7 linked regions of the Homo sapiens genome follow. The protein of the gene in region 5 purifies or fractionates together with the protein of the main gene of each other region. This does not show direct contact. Each region holds a gene or a part of one and is shown on either strand. Other genes may lie near its edges. The genes, in order: XPO4, ZFC3H1, ATP8A1, GNPTAB, SLC47A1, CNNM1 and FREM2.

What was found.
Region 1: the proteins of SLC47A1 (region 5) and XPO4 purify together in Homo sapiens (affinity purification with mass spectrometry; one large-scale study listed by BioGRID and IntAct). This does not show direct contact.
Region 2: the proteins of SLC47A1 (region 5) and ZFC3H1 purify together in Homo sapiens (affinity purification with mass spectrometry; one large-scale study listed by BioGRID and IntAct). This does not show direct contact.
Region 3: the proteins of SLC47A1 (region 5) and ATP8A1 purify together in Homo sapiens (affinity purification with mass spectrometry; one large-scale study listed by BioGRID and IntAct). This does not show direct contact.
Region 4: the proteins of SLC47A1 (region 5) and GNPTAB purify together in Homo sapiens (affinity purification with mass spectrometry; one large-scale study listed by BioGRID and IntAct). This does not show direct contact.
Region 6: the proteins of SLC47A1 (region 5) and CNNM1 purify together in Homo sapiens (affinity purification with mass spectrometry; one large-scale study listed by BioGRID and IntAct). This does not show direct contact.
Region 7: the proteins of SLC47A1 (region 5) and FREM2 purify together in Homo sapiens (affinity purification with mass spectrometry; one large-scale study listed by BioGRID and IntAct). This does not show direct contact.

The regions. Positions count from the first base shown.
Region 1 is NC_000013.11:20,896,247-20,899,746, reverse strand, and holds part of XPO4 (exportin-4), read left to right. Parts: intron 1-3,500. UniProt on the Homo sapiens protein: Mediates the nuclear export of proteins (cargos), such as EIF5A, SMAD3 and isoform M2 of PKM (PKM2). In the nucleus binds cooperatively to its cargo and to the GTPase Ran in its active GTP-bound form.
Region 2 is NC_000012.12:71,653,849-71,657,348, reverse strand, and holds part of ZFC3H1 (zinc finger C3H1 domain-containing protein), read left to right. Parts: intron 1-47; coding exon 48-464; intron 465-3,500. UniProt on the Homo sapiens protein: Subunit of the trimeric poly(A) tail exosome targeting (PAXT) complex, a complex that directs a subset of long and polyadenylated poly(A) RNAs for exosomal degradation. The RNA exosome is fundamental for the degradation of RNA in eukaryotic nuclei.
Region 3 is NC_000004.12:42,577,106-42,580,605, reverse strand, and holds part of ATP8A1 (phospholipid-transporting ATPase IA), read left to right. Parts: intron 1-627; coding exon 628-793; intron 794-2,218; coding exon 2,219-2,346; intron 2,347-3,500. UniProt on the Homo sapiens protein: Catalytic component of a P4-ATPase flippase complex which catalyzes the hydrolysis of ATP coupled to the transport of aminophospholipids from the outer to the inner leaflet of various membranes and ensures the maintenance of asymmetric distribution of phospholipids.
Region 4 is NC_000012.12:101,761,460-101,764,959, reverse strand, and holds part of GNPTAB (N-acetylglucosamine-1-phosphotransferase subunits alpha/beta precursor), read left to right. Parts: coding exon 1-758; intron 759-3,196; coding exon 3,197-3,396; intron 3,397-3,500. UniProt on the Homo sapiens protein: Catalyzes the formation of mannose 6-phosphate (M6P) markers on high mannose type oligosaccharides in the Golgi apparatus.
Region 5 is NC_000017.11:19,575,354-19,578,853, forward strand, and holds part of SLC47A1 (multidrug and toxin extrusion protein 1), read left to right. Parts: intron 1-1,973; coding exon 1,974-2,200; 3' UTR 2,201-3,500.
Region 6 is NC_000010.11:99,332,356-99,335,855, forward strand, and holds part of CNNM1 (metal transporter CNNM1), read left to right. Parts: intron 1-3,500. UniProt on the Homo sapiens protein: Probable metal transporter.
Region 7 is NC_000013.11:38,872,077-38,875,576, forward strand, and holds part of FREM2 (FRAS1-related extracellular matrix protein 2 precursor), read left to right. Parts: intron 1-665; coding exon 666-858; intron 859-2,405; coding exon 2,406-2,510; intron 2,511-3,500. UniProt on the Homo sapiens protein: Extracellular matrix protein required for maintenance of the integrity of the skin epithelium and for maintenance of renal epithelia. Required for epidermal adhesion. Involved in the development of eyelids and the anterior segment of the eyeballs.

The sequences.
Region 1 (3,500 bases), on a different chromosome or scaffold from region 5:
TTTTTGCTTAATTTTTCATTAGGTAACTCATATAGTTGTTTTATGGAAATCAGCATAGAATTTTAGAACATAGAAGAATCTTAGATCTTTTGGTACAGAAGTCTTAGGGAGTCTAGGATGAATATCAAAAGGAAATTGTAACAAATTTTTTGGTGTAAATGTACATTTTTAGTAATAGGGTCTAGAGCTTTTATCACCGTCTCTGAGAGACTAGAAACTGAAAAATAAGAATCAAGTCTAAGCATTCTCCCTTCTATGCTACAGATGGGGAAACTGAGGTTCAAAGAGGTAGAAGTGACTTGCCCAAGGTAGGTCACAGAGCAAATTCATGATATAACTGATCCAGGCTGAGATCACCAGACTCCCCTTTCAAAACCTTTACTCTTTTTTTTTTTTTTTTACTTTTTTTACTCAACCATGTTGGTTCTTAGTCAACATATACTATAAATGTTACATTTTATTACTTGATGGAAAATGTCTAAATATGGTACATCTATATTCAATCAATTTAGATTATTGGATAAGCTGCCAGATAAAGTAGTACAGTTGTCCCTCGGTGTCCATGAGAGGTTAGTTCCAGGAACCGCCTCCACCCATGGACATCAACCGTGCATTGATACTTAAGTCCCCCCGATCCCCTCCCTTTCTTTTGAGACAGGGTCTCTGTTGTCCCAGCTGGAGTGTAGTGGCATGATCATGGCTCACTGCAGCCTTGAATGGGTAATTTTTTAAAAATATTTTTTTGTAGAGAGGATCTCACTGTGTTGCCCAGGCTGGTCTTGAGCTCAAGTGATACTCTTGCCTTGGCCTCCTAAAGTGCTGGAATTATAGGCGTAAGCTACTGTGCCCAGGTGAGTTTCTTACATGATATGGTATGGTAATTGTGTATGACCTATGCACATCCTCTTGTATACTAAAATGTAGGAGGTGTTTTGATTTTAGAGACAACATTATTGAAAAGTTTAGTGTTCTTATAGTATTGATGCCACATTCATTTGCAGTCCAAAGAGCGCTTTATTTATTGTCTTGAATTTGCTTGGTTTTGTTGCCCTGTCTTCATTAGGTTGTTTTGGATTGTCCTTAGTGATTGTGTGTAGCAATAATATAAGATAGTGCAGAGCACACATATTAACTGATACATTATAGAAAAGTAATTTTCATAGGTTTTTTTTTTCCTTTTTCTTTTGAGACAGTCTTACTCTTGCCCAGGCTGGAGTGCAATGGCACAATCTCAGCTCACTGTAACCTCTGCCTCCCAGGTTCAAGTGATTGTCCTGCCTCAGCCTCCCAAGTAGTTGAGACTGCAGGTACCTGGCACCACGCCTGGGTAATTTTTGTATTTTTAGTAGAGATGAGGTTTCAACACGTTGGCCAGGCTAGTCTTGAACTCCTGACCTCAGGTTATCCTCCCACCTTGGTCTCCCAAAGTGCTGGGATTAACAGGCGTGAGCCACCGCACCCGGCCCATACATTTGTTTTTAAACCAGGATGGATTTAGTGAGTGTAAATCCAACTTTAATAAACGAGATTCATGACTGGTTTTCATAGATTTTATTATAGTGGAATCTGGTTAATATCTTCTAAAATACTTGCACATCTGTAGTCCTATAGAAAAATTTTTGTCTTCATTCTCATATCAGTCCTGTGAAGTAAATAGGATGAGATATTCCTAAACCTTATAAATGAGAAAACCTGGCCAGGCATGGTGGCTCACACCTGTAATCCTAGCACTTTGGGAGGCCAAAGTAGGTGGATCACCTGAGGTCAGGAGTTCGAGACCAGCCTGGCCAACATGGCGAAACCATGACTCTACTAAAAATACAAAAATTATCTGGGCGAGGTGGTGCATACCTATAACGTAATCCCAGCTACTTGGGAGGCTGAGGCAGGAGAATCACTTGACCCCAGGAGGCAGAGGTTGCAGAGATTGTGCCATTGCACTCCAGCCTGGGCTGTAGAGCGGGACTCTGTCTCAAAAAAATAGAATAAATAAATAAATAAATATGAAAACCTGATATTCAGAGATGGCAAATGATTTGCCTGTTGTCATGTAGCTAGTTTGGATCTGGAATCCAATTTCTGGCCATTGATTTGTTTTAGAACATTTCTTCAGTATATAGAAACACAGCATGTTAGACACTATGCTGTGTATGCTGAGGAGACAGAAGAAGCACCTTCTTTTCAAGGAGTGGAGAAAGGCAAAAATATTAGCAAATGTTGGTTGGTAAAGTTATAATAGAAGTAGGTACAAACATCTATCTCAGGCTGAGATAGGGACTGAGAAAGGGCTTCTTGGAATAGGTAACCCTTAAGCTGAATCATGAAAAATAGATTAGAGTTTTCTAGTTTGATAAGCAATATCCCAGGTGGAGATATATATTTTGGGGAATATAGTCTGAGAGAATATAGTTTGGGGAAATACAGTGAGTTTGAGGAATATTTGAGCATTTATGTAGTAGATATTTCCTGAGACCTTCAATGTGTAAGGTACACTGCCTTTATTTTTTTGTAACCACAGTACACGTCATAAAAATGAAAATTTTAATTAATTGAACCTACTTTTCTTATTTGAAAGATGCATTATAGTAAGTATGCATTTTTGTTTATTTCAGCCCTGTCTTGTAGTACCTGCGGTGGCACTAGATATTAGAAAACTGGCACAGCATTCTTTTTCTCAAAAAAGCTAATTAATAGGAAATTTATGTTTCAAATTCAGTTCAATTAAATGTGTATTTGCAGTTGGACTTGTGTCACACTAATTGGAACATAGCCAGTGATCCAGAGAAGAAATGCAAAAAGGCATTTGAAATCATCCATAGATGCCTAAAAGGCAGTTGTTAAAATTTAACAGCATTTTATGATTAAAACAATTGGATAAACTAGGAATTGAAGGGAATTCTCAATATGATAACAAATAGTTATCTGAAACCATGTATTAAATGATGATATCCTCAGAAGTAAAACGGGAGTCCTAATATAACTGTTATTTAATACCTTCTGGAGGGTCTAACTGATACAGTAATACAAAAAATGGGAATAAGTGCAGATATTGGAAAGAAAGGCCAAAAAATGATTATTTGCAGGTGATATGACATTTCGGAAAAAAAGTTTAAGCAAAATAACTAAGACTGTTGGAACCATTAGTTCTTTGGAAAGATGACCAGATGTAAGAAAAATAAATGGGTTGCAAGATTTCCTTTATATCAGCAGTGATCAGCTTAAAATTGGAAAAAAGATCCCATTCTGTTAGAAAGAAAAACTGTAGAAATAAATTATAGGGCACTGATAAGAAACATGCACCATTTTTGTGAAGAACATGATACAGCTTATTTGCAGAATATAAAAGAGCTGAATTAAATGAAGGCTATGCTCCTTGGTCTGAAAGGTCAATCCGGTTAAGGTGGCAATTTCTCCCTCATTCATCTCTAAATTGAATATAATGTCAATCAAAATCTCTCTTTCCTCCTCACCCTTTTCTGAGGTGGGAGAAAAATTAATTG
Region 2 (3,500 bases), on a different chromosome or scaffold from region 5:
AACTGTGGAAAATTTTTGGAAACTGGTTTCCTTAATATGCTGTTCAGCCAAAAGTTTTGGAAGGTCTCCATCAAGAAAACAAAATTATTCATCAAAAAATGAAAACTGTGTGGAAGAAACTTTTGAAGATTTGCTTTTAAAGTATAAACAAATACAGTTGGAACTAGAATGCATCAATAAGGATGAAAAACTAGCATTGAGTAGCAAAGAAGAGAATGTGCAGGAAGATCCTAAAACATTGAACTTCGAGGACCAAACTAGCACTGATAATGTCAGTATTACAAAGGATTCAAGTAAAGAAGTAGCTCCTGAGGAGAAAACACAAGTCAAAACTTTTCAGGCATTTGAATTAAAACCACTCAGGCAAAAATTGACTTTACCAGGAGATAAGAACCGTTTGAAAAAAGTTAAAGATGGAGCAAAACCACTTTCCCTGAAATCCGACACTACTGATTCTAGTCAAGGTAATGGAATTAAATATTTCAGTTAGTAATGACTCTTCTTCCTCTAAAGTAGTAACTACTTGTTTTGGCAGTGTACTTCATTGAAATGATTGTAATTATCTGTAAATTCTTTTGTACTTTCTATGTAGACATTCATATCATTGAATAATTACTAATTTTGTTTACTTTTAGTCTTTATTTATTTATTTATTTTTTGCCTGACATTCTGGCCTCTATAATAGAATGTTATACATAAGTGATAATAGTGGACACCTTTGTTTCCTAATTTAAAGAAAATGGTTTTGACATTTACCATTAAATATGATGTTAATTTTTTTGTAGGTATCCCTTATCGGGTAAAGGAGGGTTTTACTCCTATTCCTGGTTTGAAATTTTCAGCGTGAATGGATGTTGAAGTTTACAAAATCTGTTTTCTTCATTATTGGGATGAGCATCTAATTTATTTTAATTTGTTAGTGTAATGAATTATATAATTTATTTCTAGTATTAAACCACCCTTGTATGCTTGCGTTTAATACAGTTTATGATATACCATTTTTAAATCATGGATTTGGCTTGTTTTTTCTTTTCCTCTTTATTAAGATATAATTTATATACAGTAAAATTTATCTTTTAACATTATAAATGAATAAGTGTGTAGTTCTTCAGGTTTTGACAAATGTAGACAGTGGGTAACCATCACCAGCTACCATTAAGATACAGAATTCTTTCATCAACCTCAAACAGTTTCTCCAAGTGTCTTTGTAGTTATCCCGTCCCTCAGCCCTTAGTTCACCTGGTAACCACTGATCTGTCCCTATAGTTTTGCCTTTTCCAGAATGTCACACTAATGGAATCATACAGTATATTGCCTTTCATTATAGCTTCTTTCATTGAGCATAATGTGTTTGAAATTCATTCATGTAATTGTATATGTCAGTAGTTCTGTGTATCCCATCATACTGTAGTTCATCCATTTCCCAATTATGTTTGGGTTTTTCCAACTTTCGGCTATTACAAATGAAGGTTTGCTAGTGTTTTGTTTAGAATTTTTTATGTGTTCAGAGCCTGTAATTTCCCCCCCCTCTTTTTCCTTGACAGTTTTTAGTGTAAGGTTATAATACTCAAATTAGTTGGGGCTGTTTTCATCTTTATTCTCTGTAATAGTTTAAGATTGGAAACATTCTGAGATACTTGGTAGATCTTGCTGATAAAAGTGTCTGGGCCTGGGTGGAGTTTTTTTCTGAGAAAGTTTTAATCTAACTTCGTGTTTTCTATTTCTGTTAAGACAGTTTATGTAAACTCTATATTTTTTGTAATGTGTCTATTTCCTGTAAGTTACAGAAGTTATAAAAATTGTTCTTAAGAATCCTTTACTTTTTTATCTGTAGTATTTATAAGTTGTACCTTTTTTTTCCCTGCTCTCTTCTTTAATTTACCCTGAAATAAGTACATAAGTTTTTAAACTCAGTTTTCAGCCTCTCTCCTATTAAGATCATTTTAGGCCATAAAGTTTGACTTTAGTTCTGTCTCAAGTTGGGTTATTTAACTTTTTTCATTCATTCTGAATATTTTCTAATTTTTATTTTTCATTGACTTGTAGGCTGCTTGGAAGTATGTTTCTTCTAAACATGTAGGTTGTCTAGCAGTATTTTTTATTGATATCTAAGTCAATCATACTGTCAGAAAATAAGATTGCTATGATAACCAATCTTTTGAAATACTTGGAGACTTCCTTTATTGTCCAGTATGTAATCAGTTTTTTGTAAGAGTTCTGTGTATGTTTGAAATGAATTTATAGATTACTTGAGCTTTTTGTGTTGTTCACTTTTTTTATTTTTTGATATGCTTGATCAGTTACTAAGAGGAGTTTGTTAAAATTTGCCAGTATGATGATGGATTTGTGATTTTTACTTTTTGCTTTAAATACTTTGAAGGTGGGTAATTGAGTCATTATGTAGTGACTTTATCTCTGATGTTTTTGCCTAAAAGACTATTTTGTCTTATATTAATAGCCACATCATCTTTCTCTTTATATAATTTCCCACTCTTTCAGTCTTTCTGTATCCTCATGTCTCGGATATTACTTGTACATAGTATAGAGCTGGTTTTAATTTATAATTCAGTATGACAATCTTTGTCCTTTAGCTTGAACGTATAGTCTACTCACATTTTTTATGATTATTGACATTTGGTTTTATTTCTTCTTCTTTTTTTTCTTTTTAGGCTCTTATTTTTCTTCACACAATTTTTTTTCATTTGCTAGTTTGGAAGTTGGATACTAAATTTCTGGTCTTATATTCCTACCAGTGTTTAAAGTTAATCAGGAACCTTACTCTTTCCCCGAAATACAAAGAATGATATTTGCTTAGCTTTGCCTATATATTTAGCACTTTCTTGGCTCACTCTTTGTATCATGTCTGGAATTATATATGTATAAATATATTCTCTGTGTGTGTGTGTTTTAGATAAGATCTCACTGTGTTGCCCAGGCTAGAGTGCAGGAGTATGATCATGACTCAGTGCAGCCTTGACCTCCTGGGCTCAGGTGATCCTCCCACCTCAGCCTTCTGAGTTGCTGGGACCACAGGCATGTACTACCATGCCCGGCTATGTTTTAAAAATTTCTGTAGAGACGGGGTCTCAGTATGTTGTCTAGGCTGGTCTCAAACTCCTGGGCTCAAATGATCCTCTTGCCTTAGCCTCCTAAAATGCTGGGATTACAGGTGTGAGCCACCATGCTCTGTGCTTAAATACATTCTTTAGACTTTTTTTTTAAAAATGTGTTTTTGCTGGGTGGAAAACGATTTCCGTTTACTCTTTTTAAAAGATATTTTCCCTGGGTTTAGAATTCTAGGTTGTTTAATTATATGCTTTTTGTTTGTTTGTTTTTGAGACAAAGTCTTTCCCTGTCATCCAGGCTGGAGTGCAGTGGCACTATCTTGGCTCATTGCAACCTCCGCCTCCTGGGTTCAAGTGATTCTCATGCCTCAGCTTCCTGAGTAGCTGGGACTATGGTACATGCCATTGCGCCCGGCTAATTTTTGTATTTAGTGG
Region 3 (3,500 bases), on a different chromosome or scaffold from region 5:
TCATTCTGACATTTAATTTTCTGTTCTATGGATTTTTTGGTTAGCACAGGTCTACATAACCATTTGAATCATCAAATACAACTGAGGCAACTTGCCTCTGTTATTCTTTATAGCCAGGACTACTTAAATTGTTGCTGCGTTCAGTAAAACAATTGCTAAATGCCACCAGAAATTTGAAAGCCGGAGATCCTTTAAATGTTGCCTTCCTATGTTCAAATTTCCAGGTGCCTGTTTGCGGGAGCATGGGCTGCCTTGTCTGCCTGTCTTCCTGAACGGAAACACTAAATGTTTCTAGACTACCCTGTTTGCTTACATAGCCAAGTAATGCATTATTCATCTTACCTGCCACAATGCAAAAGCTATTTTTGCAAAGGGAATGTAATTTCGTTCTCTTCTTTCTTATAGTTTACTTCCTAGAAAAAGGCCTGGGTGGTGTAGTGGCCTTGAAAAAAAGGTGGTTAACCATTGGCACCTTATTACATTTGTCATGGGTTTCACATAATTTTCACGTATCCACCCACATCTAGATACTGAGTTGTGACTTTGTCATCCTCAACAGAATACTAAGTATAGATTGCTAAATCATTGGTGTACATTTTTTATTACTCATCTTGTTTCTTTTTACAGAATTCAACAAGTCCACCACTTAAGCTCTCAAATGTGGAACGGATTACAAATGTACAAATTTTGATTTTATTTTGTATCTTAATTGCCATGTCTCTTGTCTGTTCTGTGGGCTCAGCCATTTGGAATCGAAGGCATTCTGGAAAAGACTGGTATCTCAATCTAAACTGTAAGCAATAAAGTGCTTACTGCACTTTTTTAGATTAAGACATGTATTTGTTTCACAATTGATCTTGATTTACTTTATTTCGTATTGTTTCTAAAAAGACCTTGTTGCCAAGATAGCTGGACATTTGATCTTTATTTTTCAGTGAGATTTCTAGCAAGTGTAAGTAAAATTTGGGAATCCTAAAATTTCAGAATCCTTAAAAACATAATGAGCACTCTATAGTGGTATAAAATGTTCACTAAGTATAGTCATTTATTATATATATCAACGAAAACTATTCCTTAAAAATATTTTTAACATAGGTGGTTAACTATATGGTAAAGAAAGTAGATTGACCATGTGTGGATATAACAAAACATATATATTTAAATATATATTGTATGTATTTATAAATATATAAAATATTTTAAATATATTTAAATAATATAAATATTTAAATATATTTTATCTTAAATAAAATATACTTTGTTTATATTTTATTTAAATAAAAGTACCAAAAAGTGGTTTATATGGTTTAAAAATGTTTAAACCCAATGTATTTTCATTTGAACTCAGTAATGTGGTAAGTCCTATATTAAATGTTATCTTAGAGAAGGTGCTAGTAAATAGTTTTCCTTTAGAGCATTTATCCTTTTATTATTGTGATATTAATGTACCACCCCTGGATATTTCTGTCAAATGAGTTTACATTTTCATTTCATGAGTACTTAGCCAATAAAGACTTAACTTCCAAAAGTGTGAAAGCAAATTCTAGTACAATCACATAGCAAAAACTGGTATTTTTAAATTTTTTTTATTATATTGATTTATCTTTGCAGCAATTCCAAGTTGTTTTTATAGTTACTGATTTATTATTTCAGTATCAGAACTGTTACTACCATCAGTCTGTTTCTTTGTATACTTTATAATTGTATCTGGTATAGCAGTTTTATTTTCATTTTGAGGAAGAAGAGTATAATGTACCTAGGAGAATAATTTACCTAGGACTGAATATTACTCATATAGTTTGGATTGTTTTTGCTGCTGCTGTCTTGTTTGCTTTTAAAGTATGCTTTAAATTGGAAATACTCTTAAGAATTTATATAAAAGTGATTCTACCCAATTGAGATTTTATATTTATAAACCCTCAGTGCTATCCCTGATGTCTCTAAACTTTGTGTTTGGAAGAGGGTTTGCAATATTTGACAGTCCTTTCACTGTCTTAGTACTTTTATACAGCTCTTACCTGGATTAACAACATATTGAACACAATGCAATTCTATCTTGAAGGATGTACTTGAGAATTAGGATAGATTATCAGCAAAGTGTTCCTCCCAAATTATCAAATAAGCTGCGTAGTATGGAAAACTTGTATTATGCTAATTTGGGGTCAATGCAAATAAAATATAAAACTGTAAATGACGTTCTTCCTGCCTCTCCCAACAGATGGTGGCGCTAGTAATTTTGGACTGAATTTCTTGACCTTCATCATCCTTTTCAACAATCTCATTCCTATCAGCTTATTGGTTACATTAGAAGTTGTGAAATTTACCCAGGCATACTTCATAAATTGGGTAAATATGAATTATGATTGTTATCACCCTACAAAATAATTTTGTCCTTAGGATATTTTGATATCTCAGGAGAAAAAAGGTTTTAATTATATCTACCGTTTCTTGACCACAGTATCAGATTTTTGAACCTAATTTGTTGCAAAGTTCCTCATCTCAGAATCACACAAGTTTACAGGCCAGACATTGTAGGGAAAATGGGTCTCTAGTTCAGGAAACCTATGGTGGTCGTGGGAGATGGAGAACCATGAGTTTGGAGTTAAGTGTCTGAATTATGGTTCTAGTATTATAATTTACTAGGTGTATCAACTTTCTCAAGTCACTTATTTTGAAACTTATTTTCTTGAACACAATCATAGGGATAATATGCCTTACCTACATCTTACAGTGGTTTTATGGACTAAGGAATCTCTTGACATAGCAAAGAGCTTTGAAAATAATCAATCACTATACAAATAATACTGTAATTCTTACTGATATCAACCAGATTATCATGTTATATCATGTTATTTTCTACACTGTAAACAATTTTAGCTTCACTTGAATTTTTCTTCATAATTTTTCTCTTGAATATTGTTAAATATTAGAAAAATGTTGGACATCTACTTTCTAAATGTTTTTAAATGTCTTAGTTTTATTTTTATTAAAGTTAAAATTAATGAATTTATCTAAATTAAATCTGTGGGCCTAATCTGCCAGAAAATTTAATTTTTCTTTTATTTTGAGAAACTTTGTGTTATTTTTGATGTTTCTTTCTTTTTCAATCATTGTAAAGTCTTTCAATATGAACAATATTAGGGTTTCGAAAAATATGACATACTTTTGTAACTGCTCATTATCTTCTTGTAGCGAATTATCTACCTAAACTGTCAATCTCTTAATTCATTGGTAAGAAATCAGTGTGATTTAGAAATCTAAAATGAGCTGCAGGTGTAGCTCACTTCATGCAGGAGATATATGGCTGAAAAATTACGTAATAGGATATGTACAAATATAAGTAAGACTTATTGAAGTTTCTTATAGCAATAATAGGGTAACTCATTGTGAGAATCACATAAGTAAGCTAGATAATCACTTTGTTGTTTTGATTTTCAAAAATAATATCTTTCAAAGAATTATATAATTTTAGTATTGGATGAACCCAGCAGGCTTATGCT
Region 4 (3,500 bases), on a different chromosome or scaffold from region 5:
TTAGTCCCATAACACTTCTTCCAGAGGCGGAAATCCTTTTTGAGGATATTCCCAAAGAAAAACGCTTCCCGAAGTTTAAGAGACATGATGTTAACTCAACAAGGAGAGCCCAGGAAGAGGTGAAAATTCCCCTGGTAAATATTTCACTCCTTCCAAAAGACGCCCAGTTGAGTCTCAATACCTTGGATTTGCAACTGGAACATGGAGACATCACTTTGAAAGGATACAATTTGTCCAAGTCAGCCTTGCTGAGATCATTTCTGATGAACTCACAGCATGCTAAAATAAAAAATCAAGCTATAATAACAGATGAAACAAATGACAGTTTGGTGGCTCCACAGGAAAAACAGGTTCATAAAAGCATCTTGCCAAACAGCTTAGGAGTGTCTGAAAGATTGCAGAGGTTGACTTTTCCTGCAGTGAGTGTAAAAGTGAATGGTCATGACCAGGGTCAGAATCCACCCCTGGACTTGGAGACCACAGCAAGATTTAGAGTGGAAACTCACACCCAAAAAACCATAGGCGGAAATGTGACAAAAGAAAAGCCCCCATCTCTGATTGTTCCACTGGAAAGCCAGATGACAAAAGAAAAGAAAATCACAGGGAAAGAAAAAGAGAACAGTAGAATGGAGGAAAATGCTGAAAATCACATAGGCGTTACTGAAGTGTTACTTGGAAGAAAGCTGCAGCATTACACAGATAGTTACTTGGGCTTTTTGCCATGGGAGAAAAAAAAGTATTTCCAAGATCTTCTCGACGTAAGTAACATCCAGCCTCATTCTTTCTCATGCTCAGGAAGAGTAAATAATCTCATGATAATATCATTATAGCTACCATTTATTCAGCACTTCCCTGTGCCGGCCATGGAACTAAATGCTTTTCTTACATGGTTTCATTTAATTTACCCAATAACCCTAATAATAAAAAATGTCATATGAAGGTATTTATTATTGCTGTCCCCATTTTGTAGTTTAGGAAACAGCCCAAGTGTGAATGAGTAAGGGATTTAGCCAGGGGCGTACTTGGAGGAAGGAGAGTGGGAAGTGGCATGTTGTCTTGTCTTGACATTTCAGATATGGTATTTTTCCAGCTTTACTGATGAAAAACCCTGAAGTTCAATTAAGTTCATTCGCTTCCCCAACATTATAACAGCAAATCAGTGTGAGCCAAGCCTCAAAGTTGGACTGCTCGTTGCCCTGTACCATGGCTTCACTGTGCTGTGGTGTCATCTGTACCTCTCCTCAGTGCTCTCACGGTGCTAACCACTGGGGAATGCAAGATGACGGGAACATAGCCACTGCTCATGTGGAAACTCAGGGACCAGTAGAGAAGACAAATTTGTGGGGAGAAAACTGTAGCAAAGAGATGTGTCTGTGTTGAGATATGGGCAAGAAGTTCAGAGGGAGGACTCCTTAGCTCTGCCTAGAAGTACTAGGGAAGGCATACAGAAGGAAGTGCCCTGTGGACTGACCTTCGAAGGGGTGGGAGTTGACAGACCAAAAAAAAAAATCATACAGTCTGGGCTGAATAGTGAAGGCACACAGCCACGAGTGGGTGTTAGGCTGGGAGAAAAGAGAGTGAAGGAGGAACTATGTCCTCAGCATTTTAGGAAGTATCTTGTGCCTTGCACATGAGGCATTTACAGATTGTCTAGTGAAGGACTGCAGTGTTCTTGACTATGTTTATTTCCTCAGTTTCCCCCATTTTCTTTCCTTTCCTTTCTTTTTTTTTTTTTTTTGAGATGGAGTTTCGCTCTTTTTCCCAAGCTGGAGTGCAATGGCGTGATCTCGGCTCACTGCAGTCTTTGCCTCCCAGGTTCAAGAGATTCTCCTGTCTCAGCCTCCTGAGTGGCTGGGATTACAGGCATGTGCCAGCATGCCTGGCCAATTTTTTGTATTTTTAGTGGAGACGGGGTTTCACCATGTTAGCCAGGCTGGTCTCGAACTCCTGACTTAAGGTGATCCGCCCGCCTCGGCCTCCCAAAGTGCTGGGATTACAGGCGTGAGCCACTGTGCCTGGCCTCTGGCCTCTTTCCTTTTTTTTTTTTTTTTTTTTTAAATTTACAAAAGCATTATAGGCTAGTAGTAAAAATTGCAAACAATTCAAAAATATACAGTAAATAAAGGAAAGTTCTTCCTTCTTCAGTCTCCTTCCCGGAGATAATTGCTGTTAATAGTTTGATGGGTATTCTTCCAGTATTTTTCTATAGCTATGCAAACATACCTATATGTATGTATAGTTATATATAGAGAAATATATGTATAGTGTAAATTTACATATATTTCCCTGCAGTTGCCTTTTGATGTAGTAGGATGTGGGCAAATGCCATTATTTATTTATTTATTTATACCCATGCCAGTGCCATTATTCTTTTTAATGGCTGCAGGTTAGTTATTTCCAATGTTTTGTGATTACAAATAGTGTTGCAGTGAATTCTCTTGTACATATATCTTACATTTCAGTGAGTTTTAGTTCTGCAGGTAGAATTACTAGCTTAGCAGGTATAAACTTTAAATATGTCTTTCTGAAATGTTGCACCACTTCATATTTCCACAAACAGTATACAACAGTGCTTGTTTCACTGCAGTCTAACCAACACCAGTTAATATCAGTCTCCTTACATTTTTATTTTTATCAGTTTGAGAAGCAAAAATATTTCTGTAAAGTGTTTGAATGCTTTGCCAATTTTCTTTGCCTATTTAGTTCTGCCACTGACTGGTTTTGATTTTATAATATTAAAACTATTATAAGATGAAACCAAATTTGTTTCTAGTCCTTGCGCTTAAAACTCAAGGACTTGCACATTTGATATCACCTGCAGAAATAGCTTGATATTGAAAGTACTATCAAATGTATATGTACATAAATTTTCTAAATGTTGCATTGAATTAGCTTTGACATCTCACAGTCAGTGACCAGTCCTTGAAGAATACCCTCCATATGTGACTGTTGTTATGTAGATCTCCATCGTACAGCTGTTGTTCTCAAACCAACATTGGTGATACTTGCACTGAAATCCAGTTGAGTCCTGCTAAGTCCAGTTTAGATCCTTAAAGTGACCCGTTAACATGTATTTCATTTGCTCCTAATGAAGAGTTCGTGACTAGTTATTACCACATTATATAAAATGTCTTGTAACAAAGTACACTTGTGCACTAAACATAATGCTGAGTTACATGTAGAATTCTCTTTTCAGGAAGAAGAGTCATTGAAGACACAATTGGCATACTTCACTGATAGCAAAAATACTGGGAGGCAACTAAAAGATACATTTGCAGATTCCCTCAGATATGTAAATAAAATTCTAAATAGCAAGTTTGGATTCACATCGCGGAAAGTCCCTGCTCACATGCCTCACATGATTGACCGGATTGTTATGCAAGAACTGCAAGATATGTAAGTCTTGCTCGTGTTTGAGTTGTTTGCTTGTGTTCAGAACTAAGGCTACTTGAAATGTGCATATTTACCATGCTAAATTTATAGCTCTAATATTTGATGAC
Region 5 (3,500 bases):
TCATTTTTCTCTTCGGAAGCTTTTAGGACATTTTCTTATTATTATTCCTTTTTTTTTTTTTTTGAGATAGGGTCTTGTTCTGTCACCCAGGCTGGAGTGCAGTGGTGCAATTATAGCTCACTGCAGTCTCAAACTCCTAGGCTCAAACAGTCCTCCCGTTTTAGCCTCCTGAGTAGCTGGGATTACAGGTGCGTGCCACTATGCTCAGCTAACTCTTTAATATTTTTGTAGAGACCAGGTCTTGCTTTGCAGCCCAGGTTGGTCTTGAACTTCTGGATTCAAGCAATCCTCCTGCTTTAGCCTCTCAAAGTGTTGGGATTACAGGTGTGAACCACCACGCCTGGCCTATTACTCTTACTGTTCTGAAGTGTCTTGAGACTAAGTCTAGGTGTGAATCATTATCTGCTTGAAACTGTTGGGGTGAAGGAGAAGCTATCCCCTTGCCCTCCGATGGTTCACTGAAAAATCAACTTATAATAAGGCCGATGAATAAGAGAAAAGGCATACAAATGTATTTAACCATGCAAAAGGGAAGAATCACAGTCATTACCCAACATCCCAGTGAGGCCCAACACTCATATAACCAACTTTCAGAGGGGAGAGAGGAGATAGGGCATTTGGTGCTTCTGTTGAGGGATAGTAAATGAGTACTAGGGAAAATGATTGAATATTTTGCAGAATGAATGGATTGGGGGCAGGGTGGACAGACTGGTTCCCTTTGGAAGTTGAATGAACCTGAGAGACTGGCATTATTTTGTAAAAGGTTTGGCAATTGTTCTTCTTGGTGGGTTTGTCTGGCTTTTATGTAGATGGGGAAAAGTCTCTTTCAAGGCCTGTTGATCTCCAAAGAGTTTTTAATTTAAAATACTCATTATACCAGGGAGCCATATCTTGGGGTGAAATTCTCTGCAATCCTTCAATACTTAGTAGGCCCTTTGATGTGAACGGTCACATCTTTCTCCCATTCTGTGAATAGCCTTGTATTCTTTCTTCCTTCCTTTTTTTTTTTTTTTTTTGACACTGGGTCTCTCTCTGTCACTCAGGCTGGACTGCAGTAGCACAATCATAGCTAACTGCACCTCGATATCCTGGGCTCAAGTGATCCTCCCACCTCAGTCTCCCAAGTAGTTGGGACTATAGGCATACGCCATCAGGCCCAGCAAAGTTTTTGTTTGTAGAGATGAGGTATCACTATGTTGCCCAGGCTGGTCTTGAACTCCTGGGCTCAAGGGATTCTCCCACCTCAGCATCCCAAAGTGTTGGAATTACGGGCGTGAGCCATCGCACCCAGACTTGAATTATTTCTTAGGTTGTTTCTCCTTGTGTTTTGTTCTGAAATGCTTATTAGATGGGTGTTGGCTCCTTGAAAATTTCCCCTGTGAATCCTTTTTTTTTTTTCCCTTGGAGTGGAGTTTTGCTCTTGTTGCCCAGGCTAGAGTGCAATGGCACCATCTTGGCTCACCCAAACCTCTGCCTCCTGGGTTCAAGCGATTCTCCTGCCTCACTGCCTCAGCCTCCTGAGTAGCTGGGATTACAAGCATGTGCCACCATGTCCGGCTAATTTTGTATTTTTAGTAGAGACGGGGTTTCTCCATATTGGTCAGGCTGGTCTCTAACTCCCAACCTCAGGTGATCTGCCTGCCTCAGCCTCCCAAAGTGCTGGGATTACAGGCATGAGCCACCGCGCCCGGCTTCCCTGTGAATTTTAATGGAGAGGGCTACCTTATTTCTCTAGCTCCTGGGAGAGTGCTCCCTGGAGCACCCAAGCCAGCGCTGGTAGGATCATCGGTGTTCGTGAAGGAGTGAGTGGAGGGGCACTCTGCGATAAGATTTCTTTTATTTATTCACTGTAGCAATAGTGTCCTGAATTAACTTTCTCTCCACTATTAGCACATATTCCTTTTATACATAGCCCTTTATAAAAATGAAAAAAAAAATCCCTTTTAAGCTGCTAAGTTCCTTTTTCCTCCCAGGGTGCCCTGAAAACCTTGAAGGAATTTTAACGAACGATGTTGGAAAGACAGGCGAGCCTCAGTCAGATCAGCAGATGCGCCAAGAAGAACCTTTGCCGGAACATCCACAGGACGGCGCTAAATTGTCCAGGAAACAGCTGGTGCTGCGGCGAGGGCTTCTGCTCCTGGGGGTCTTCTTAATCTTGCTGGTGGGGATTTTAGTGAGATTCTATGTCAGAATTCAGTGACGTGGTAGGAAAGAAAGTCAGGTCAAGTGATGCTTTTGAGCTTACACACAATTCACAGGCCCACCAGTGACAATTTACTGTGAGTTAATGTCATTCAGGTGTGCCCATGGATTTTGAGGGCTGGAAATGCAAAGACACATTTTTCTATAAAAAGAAAAAGCAACTAAGGTTAAAAGCTATATTGTGGCCCAAGACACTGTCTGAAAGATGACATGAGTAGTAATTCACCACTATCTGAACCAAGCAAGGATCAATGTGCTGACTGCATTGGCCAATGGCTTTGATACTTCTGCTATTTTTTTAGACACAAACCCATAAACTAACTGCTTAAGAATTCATACTGCTTGAATTATGTAAAATATATTTTACAGTATATCTTTCCTTGGGCCTTAGATTACTATTCACTGGGCAAATGGTATTTGTTTTTGTTTTAATTTTTTTTTTAATAGACGGAAGTCTTGCTCTGTCATGCAGGCTGGAGTGCGGTGGTGCGATCATAGCTCACTGCAGCCTCGAACTCTTGGGCTTCAAGCAATCCTCCTGTGTCAGCCACCAGAGTAGCTGAGACTACAGGGGTATGCCACCATGCCCAGCTGGCATTTGTTAATCTTCATTTGAGGTCTAGATCTAGGCACTGTGGACACTGAAAAACAGTTGGGAAATCTTTCGAGCTGTGGAAATCCAAACAAAGACTGATAATTCCTGGTAGGGGTGTGTGCGTGACGTACTGCAGCCTCAACCTCCTGGGCTCAAGTGATCCTCCCACCTCAGCCTCCTGAGTAGCTGAGACCACAGGCGTGTGCCACCACGCCTAGCTAATTTTTTATACCAGGGTCTACCCTTTGTTTCCCAGGCTGGTCTTGAATTCCTGGGATCAAGCAATCCTTCCACCTTGCCCTCCCAAAGTGTTGGGATTATAGGCATGAGCCACCACGACTGGCCAGAGGACAAAATTTTAATAAAGGTCTTAGCTTAAGCAGTAATCCTACTTCATTAAGCCTTCCTGGGGTGCGGTACACACCGTTAATTCAGCAACCCTCAGTACATACTAAGTATGCTCAGTGCTGTGAAAGTGGATTACACCAAATTAAGTCATTCTTATCACACCCAATCAAAAGTCAAGAAGCCAGGGATAAAAGCACCTCAGGCACATAACATTAATCTAGTAATGTAATTCTCTGCACATCCAGCTGGTGAAACTGCGTGCTGTAAGCTGGGACCAGCTTTGTCCATAACTGCTGAGAGAACTTGCTGAAGCTCTAGGAATAATTTTGCCTGCCCGGTTGCTCACCAGTTGTAG
Region 6 (3,500 bases), on a different chromosome or scaffold from region 5:
GATATAGCTTCCTAATGGCTAGCAGTACTCTCATTTAACTGCATTTTGTATAAATTTTTTGTCAAAAATTTAATGTCATGATAATTTGAGCCCGAGGCTGCAGTGAGCTATGACTGTGCCACTGAACTCTAGCCTGGGTAACAGAGCAAGACCCTGTCTCAAAAAAGAAAGAAAGAGAGAGAGAGGAAGGGAAGGAGGGAGGGAGGGAGGGAAGGGAAAATTCAATCTCACTACTTTAACATCATAAATAATCTTTAGAACTTTGAATACAAACAAATCTGGGGTCTTTTTCCTGCCACAATTTTTGAAATCATATTAAATATTAAAATGTAGCCTGGAAGGGGGGAAAAAGGTCTAAAAGCTACTTTCAGTCTCAGATTTGAGAGAACAGCCCTAGACTTTGTGTTGGTATGATGAGAAGGGAGAGAAATGTATATATGGCAGCTATTTTAGTCCATTTTCGGTTGCTGTCTCACCCTGTTCAGTCCATCTCGCCTTAATCCTTGCATTCATAGTTCCCACTGCAACTTGAGGTTCATCTATCCACTCTTAGAATTATGCTTACATTTTGTATATCTTACAGAAGTAGGGTCTTAGATCTGGGCATTGGGTGGCATAAACCACAGAAATTTATTTCCTCAAAGATCTGGGGGCTAGCAGTCCAAGATCAAGGTGTCTGGCAGGTTTGGTTCCTTCTGAGGCGTCTCTCCTTGGCTTGCAGTCACCACCTTCTAACTGTGTCCTGACATGGTATTTCCTCTGTATGCATGCATCCCTGGTGTCTCCTTGTGTGTCCAAATTTTCTCTTCTAACAAGGACACCAGTCAGATTGGATTAGAGCCCACCCTAATGGCCTCATTTTAACTCAGTCACCTCTTAAAACTGATAGTTAAGATACAGAGCAGTTAAGATAGTGTCTCATTGTCATGTGCTGGCAGAAGATGTTTTAAATGAAACTCCTGTGAACTCATTCATTCATTTGTTTAGGTTTGTTTGTTTGTTTGTTTGAGACAGAGTTTCACTCTGTCGCCCAGGCTGGAATGCAGTGGCGCCATCTTGGCTCACTACAAACTCTGTCTCCTGGGTTCAAGTGATTCTTCTGCCTCAGCCTCCCAAGTAGCTGTGATTACAGGAGTGCACCAACACGCCTGGCTAATTTTTGTATTTTTAGTAGAGACAGGGTTTCACCATGTTGGCCAAGCTGGTCTCGAACTCCCGACCTCAGGTGATCCACCTGCCTTGGCCTCCCAAAGTGCTGAGATTACAGGCATGAGCCACTGCACTTGGCCTCATTTAGTATTTTTTAAACATCTATACAGTTTTAGGCAACAAGGGAGACAGGAAGACTGTCCTCAGGAGGTTAGCAATATACAGGGCATAATGAGCAGTCTTTCGAAGCAGGAATTGTCATATCAACTCTTATATCCCCAGCACCTTACACACTGCCTTGTAAATAGTAAGCTGTTCCAAAAAGTTGATATTGATCTGAAATGAATCCCTGTGCAGAATTTCTAAACCTGGTCGAAAAAAGCTCCTTTAGTGTTCTATTAATAGCTACTTTGTATTTAGGTAGAGCACTAAAGAGAAGCAAGCCATTACAGAGAATACTATACCAAGGAAGATATTTCCACTTCCTTTCATAGCCTTGCTACTTCCTCAAAGTAAGGTCCGTGAAACAGCAGCATGAGTCTCACCTGGGAACTTATTAGAAATGCAGAATTTTATGCCTCACCCTAAATCCACTGAATGAAAATCTGCATTTTAGCAAGCTGCCAGGTGGCTCCTATGTAACATTAAAGTTTGAGAAGCATTGCCTTCAGAGACCCCTTATTAACAGTGTTTGGTAGATCTACTTAAGATAGAATATAAGACATAATGAACAAGGTGGATGTTCTCAGGCTGCAAGCCATATAACATAGTGGTCATTTTCTTTAGGAGTTATACATTTGCACCATAGGTTAGGAGGTGAAAGCTGGGTTGAACTGCTTTCCTTTACCTTTAAAAATAACGTTTTTGGCTGGGCGCAGTGGCTCACGCCTGTAATCCCAGCATTTTGGGAGGGCGAGGTGGGTGGATCACCTGAGGTCAGGAGTTCGTGACCAGCTTGGCCAACATGGTGAAACCCCATCTCTACTAAAAATACAAAAATTAGCCAGGTGTGGTGGCACACACCTGTAATCCCAGCTAATTGGGAGGCTGAGACAGGAGAATTGCTGAGACAGGAGGCGGAGGTTGCAGTGAGCTGAGATCGCACCACTGTACTCCAGCCTGGGTGACAGAGAAAGACTCTGTCTCAAAATAAATAAATAAATAAGAAAAAAATAATTTTTAAAGCTGGTCTTTAATAGCTCTTCCATTTTCCTTACTTCCTTGCTTCTCAAGTAACGTAACCACCAACAAATCCCTTCGAAGGTAGAAGAGGAAAATGACGATATTAATAGGAGCCACAGTTACCATTAATTGAGCACCAACAGTTCTTCCAGGCACCATGCCAGGCCCTTTACATACTCAGAACAACCCTCCTGGGTAGATGTCATTAACTACATTTTACAGATGAAGAAACTAAAGCTCGGATCAATAACATGACTTGTACAACTTTCCATAACTAATAACTGACTGAACTGTGATGTGAACTACATCTGTAGGACCCGAAAGCCTGTTCTTTCCCTGCTACACCTGTCTTATTCCTTCCTCCATCCTGGAATTCCTGCCACCCACAGGGTTCAAAGGTAGCCTTTTCACCTCTGATTGCTGCCCATGGCTGATTCACCTCCAGTTTCTGCAGGTTAGTAATGTAGCTTTATAATTACAGTAATTGCTAACATGCATATTGCACTTGATAAAACATTTCTATATACCTTCTCTTGTCCAATCTTAAACAACTCTGCAGTTACAGGTGATGATATGGGATTTTATCTTTTTACTTCTTATGAGTTGCAAGTCTTTAGAAGTGGGGAAGAGGAAAATGGTCTTTCACACTAGAGTGTGAGGTTTACAAAAGGGAACAATATTTCTCACCACTGGACTGTAAGTTCCTTGAGGACAGAGAATGAATCTTACTTATTTTGTATTCTCAGGACAAGTATAGTGACCGCCATGGCTAGGGGATGTATAACCATTTATTGAATAAATGGTTTTAAATACCTAACTTCTATATTTCTATGTTTGAGTGAGGTGAACCCTAAGTACGGAATAATTAATGTTGTTCCTTGATCCCAGCAAATCTCTCCTCTTCCTCTTCATGGGCCTCTGTCCCCAGTAAGTGGCACCACTTGTCCCTTTAGTCTCCCAGACTAGAAAGCTTTCCTTTGCATTCACCTCATCCTATTAATCATTGTCGTCTGCACAGGCTGTCATTAGAAAATAGCATAGACTGGTGACCTAAACAACAGAAATTTATTTTCTCGCAATTCAAGGCTTTGACATCCAAGATCAAGGTTTTGGCCAACTCAGTTTCTGGTGAGGACGTTCTTCCTGGCTTGCATGTGGGTGCCTTCTCT
Region 7 (3,500 bases), on a different chromosome or scaffold from region 5:
ATGAAATGTAATATGTGCATACAATGGGCTGCAATTCATTAACAGGGGAATTAAGTATTGAAACGTGCTCAAACATGGATGCACCTTGAAAACATTATGCTAAATGAAAGAAATCTATCACAAAAAAACACATTTTGTATGATTCCATTTATATGAAATGTCCAGGATAGACAAATACATAAAGACCTAGTGGTTTCCAGGGACTGACGGGGAGGAGGGATTGGGGGTGACTGCTAATAAGTACAGGCTTCCTTTTGGAGGTGATGAAAATCTTCTAAAATTGATTGTGTTGGTTGCACAGCTCCTTAAATATACTAAGAACCATTGAACTGTTTACTTTAAATAGGTGAATTACATGGTATGTAAACTATCTTCATAAAACTGCTCTAAAGAGGATTTTGTAAGTATAGTATGCTCAAAATAATGCACTGTCTTAAGGATTTCTGGTACATATCCTTTGTTGCCAATGAAGGTAATTAGTAACAACTATTTAATCGATCCAAAATTAAGTGAGGGGAAAATAGTGTTATAAAATGCTGTCATTTCCTCTTCTCAATGATTACTCAAAATCTTCAGTTAAGCGAAAAGAGAAAATGGCTTGTACAAAATTAGGCCCACTTAGTTAACACTGAGTCATGTTGATTGATGTAATTTTGTTGTTTTAGGTCCTAAACCTAGTGCAGTCCTATGTGACCCTTCGAGTCCCTCTGTATGTTTCCTACGTGTTCCATTCCCCCGTGGGGGTAGGAGGCTGGCAGCATTTTGACTTGAAGTCAGAGCTTCGTCTAACTTTTGTGTACGACACCGCCATCTTGTGGAATGATGGAATTGGCAGCCCCCCAGAGGCTGAACTTCAAGGTGAGTTCAGAAGACTTGGAAAATTCTATAGTTTTGTAACCTATTTAAACTATTTAAGACGATTTTTTTTTGCCATTGCTAAAAGTAGTACTAGCAAATTTCAGTATATTTTCATTTTCTATCTATAATAAGATAATTTCACCTTTTTCATCAAAAAACTCTTTAAACCATATTAGGGCTTTAAATTTTGTGCAATATGTGATTATTAAATATGACTTTATATATTTCATGGATATTTTATCCTTGCGATCTATTTTAGGTGATTAATTATTTATGTGTTACATAACACAACATATATATTTTTCTGAATTCTAGAAAATGGATAGAGGAAGCTCCAACGAAAGCAAGAAATGACCAAGGGAAAAAGTTACACATTTTTATTTCTGAAAAAAAGAGGTGCATTTAAATTAAATACAAATTATGGCCTGAATTCTAGTCATGACTCTACAACTAACTAGCTGTGAGATCTCAAGCATATTGCTTAACCTTTCTGGGACTTAACTTTTTCTGAATGATAGACACAACTTCTAATATCTCTTTCTGATGTAAAATTCTATTACTCTGGGGTACTTTAGTTGAATGTCTGCGAACTCGGATTGTGAATGCCACTAGTTCGAGTTCGCGAGCATTTGCAAAACTTGGTTTCAATCTCCATGTTAGACTCATAGTTCAAAGTCCACAAGCATCAATCTAATCCATTAGTAGGACGAGTGCTTTTTCTTTTTCAGACATGTATTACTGTTCCGATTCCACAAACATCCATAGTGTCATGCCAGTACTGCATTTTACTAGCCAGCAGGAAAACAGAGTTAATAGTGCACCTCAAATGTAAATCTACTCTCTTAAGTGGATTAAAACCTATTTATGCTCTGTTCATTTTGTTGTTGTCTTTTTTTCTCCATGTTTCATTTTGAATAGTTTCTATTTTAGAGCTATGTGACAGGTAATATGATAACCCTGAGTTATGATTCCAAATTATTTCAAATGTTTTAAGTCCGTGTCTTGTTTTAGAAGATGTATATTTAAGTTAATCTTAATGAGGATTTTTCTGTGGTTCCCAACCTCCACATAGGATCTCTTGTTTCCATCTGATTTCTGGAGCCAAATTTTATCAAACTGCTAAATTTCTTGGGAAAGCTTCAGAGGTTTCTTTAAGTCTATAAAATTAGGAATAATTCTGGATAACTCAAACCTATTTCTATTTACATGTCCGAATCTCCATCATTTTGACAATTTTGTCATGCCTCTCAATTTACAGCTTCATTTTTATAAACTCAGATTTTAAAAAAACTTGGTCTATTGTAAGTAATCTGTGTATTTCATAGTGACTTCACTCATGTTACTTAATAATTCATTTTGGCTCCCTTTTCTGCTTAGAAAAGAAAATGAAGATACTTCTGCCTCTGTTATTCAGAATTCTTCTGATAATACCCTTTGCCCAGAATGTTTAAAGACAAGTCAAACCTGAATTAATTTTTGGAAGGAATCTGTACATAAGGGGTCTCTGGCTACATATATTTTCATTCTTGGTACTCTCCCCATTATAGGTTCTCTCTATCCAACCAGCATGCGCATCGGTGATGAGGGGCGCTTGGCCGTGCACTTCAAGACAGAGGCTCAGTTCCATGGCTTATTTGTGCTGTCACATCCCGGTAAGCCCCGTTATCTTTTAACAACCACTCCTCACACAAAAAGGAGGTAGATTTTCCATCTTCACACATTTCAGCGTGCTTCTCTGTTACCACTGAAGCCCTTAATCTCAAATGAATTGTACATGTGGGATTATCTCCATGAGAGCTTGATAATTGTTCAGCTTCACCTCATAATCCACAAAATTATCATTATGCAGACTTTCAGAGAAAATGCAAAATAATTAGAGTAAAATTAAAAGGAAACCCTATTGAGTTCATTTTAAGTAAAGTTTTCCTTAAAGAGCATAGGAATAATCATTTCTTTCTCTGCTTTGCTTCCATTGTACAAATCGAATTGCAGATGATTCATTCAGCAAGCACTTCTCTTTTCACAGCTTTTTGCTAGGTACTGTGAGAAACCCTTTTAATAGGGTCAGAGGAGGTACTTCACTTTCATATTTAAGTTTTGGACATGTTAATTATGTTTAATAAGTATTGGCTATGCAATTTTACTAACTGTGATTCGCTGTGCTTTGAATATCAACAAGGCAGCAGTCGATAAAATCCCACGTCTAACTTCATTTGTTTTTTGTTTTTTTTTAACAAGGACATTTCACTAGAAAGAGCTTATTTTTTATTTGACTCTCCATATTACCAGTTTAGTAACATGGAGAGTCAAATAAAAAATAAGCCATTTTTCTGCCAGCTTATATTAGATTGGGAAAGGGAAAATAGTTCACTCAACATCTTTATAGCTTTTCTTTTTCTGGACTTGAACTCTAACAAAAGAGAATAGGGCTGAATAATTAGGAAGAGAAAGAGGCTTCATTGTATTTTTATGGAACTGAGCTACAAGAAAGAAAGAACCCAAAAAAATCATTTTGCTTTATTGTATTTGACAGTTCTGGAAAATGAGGATTTTCTGGTCTATACAGTTTTCTTCTACATGCCTACCTTTCTAATAAACTGAATCTTTGTGTAGCCATGATTGCAGGCAATCTAACTAAAATC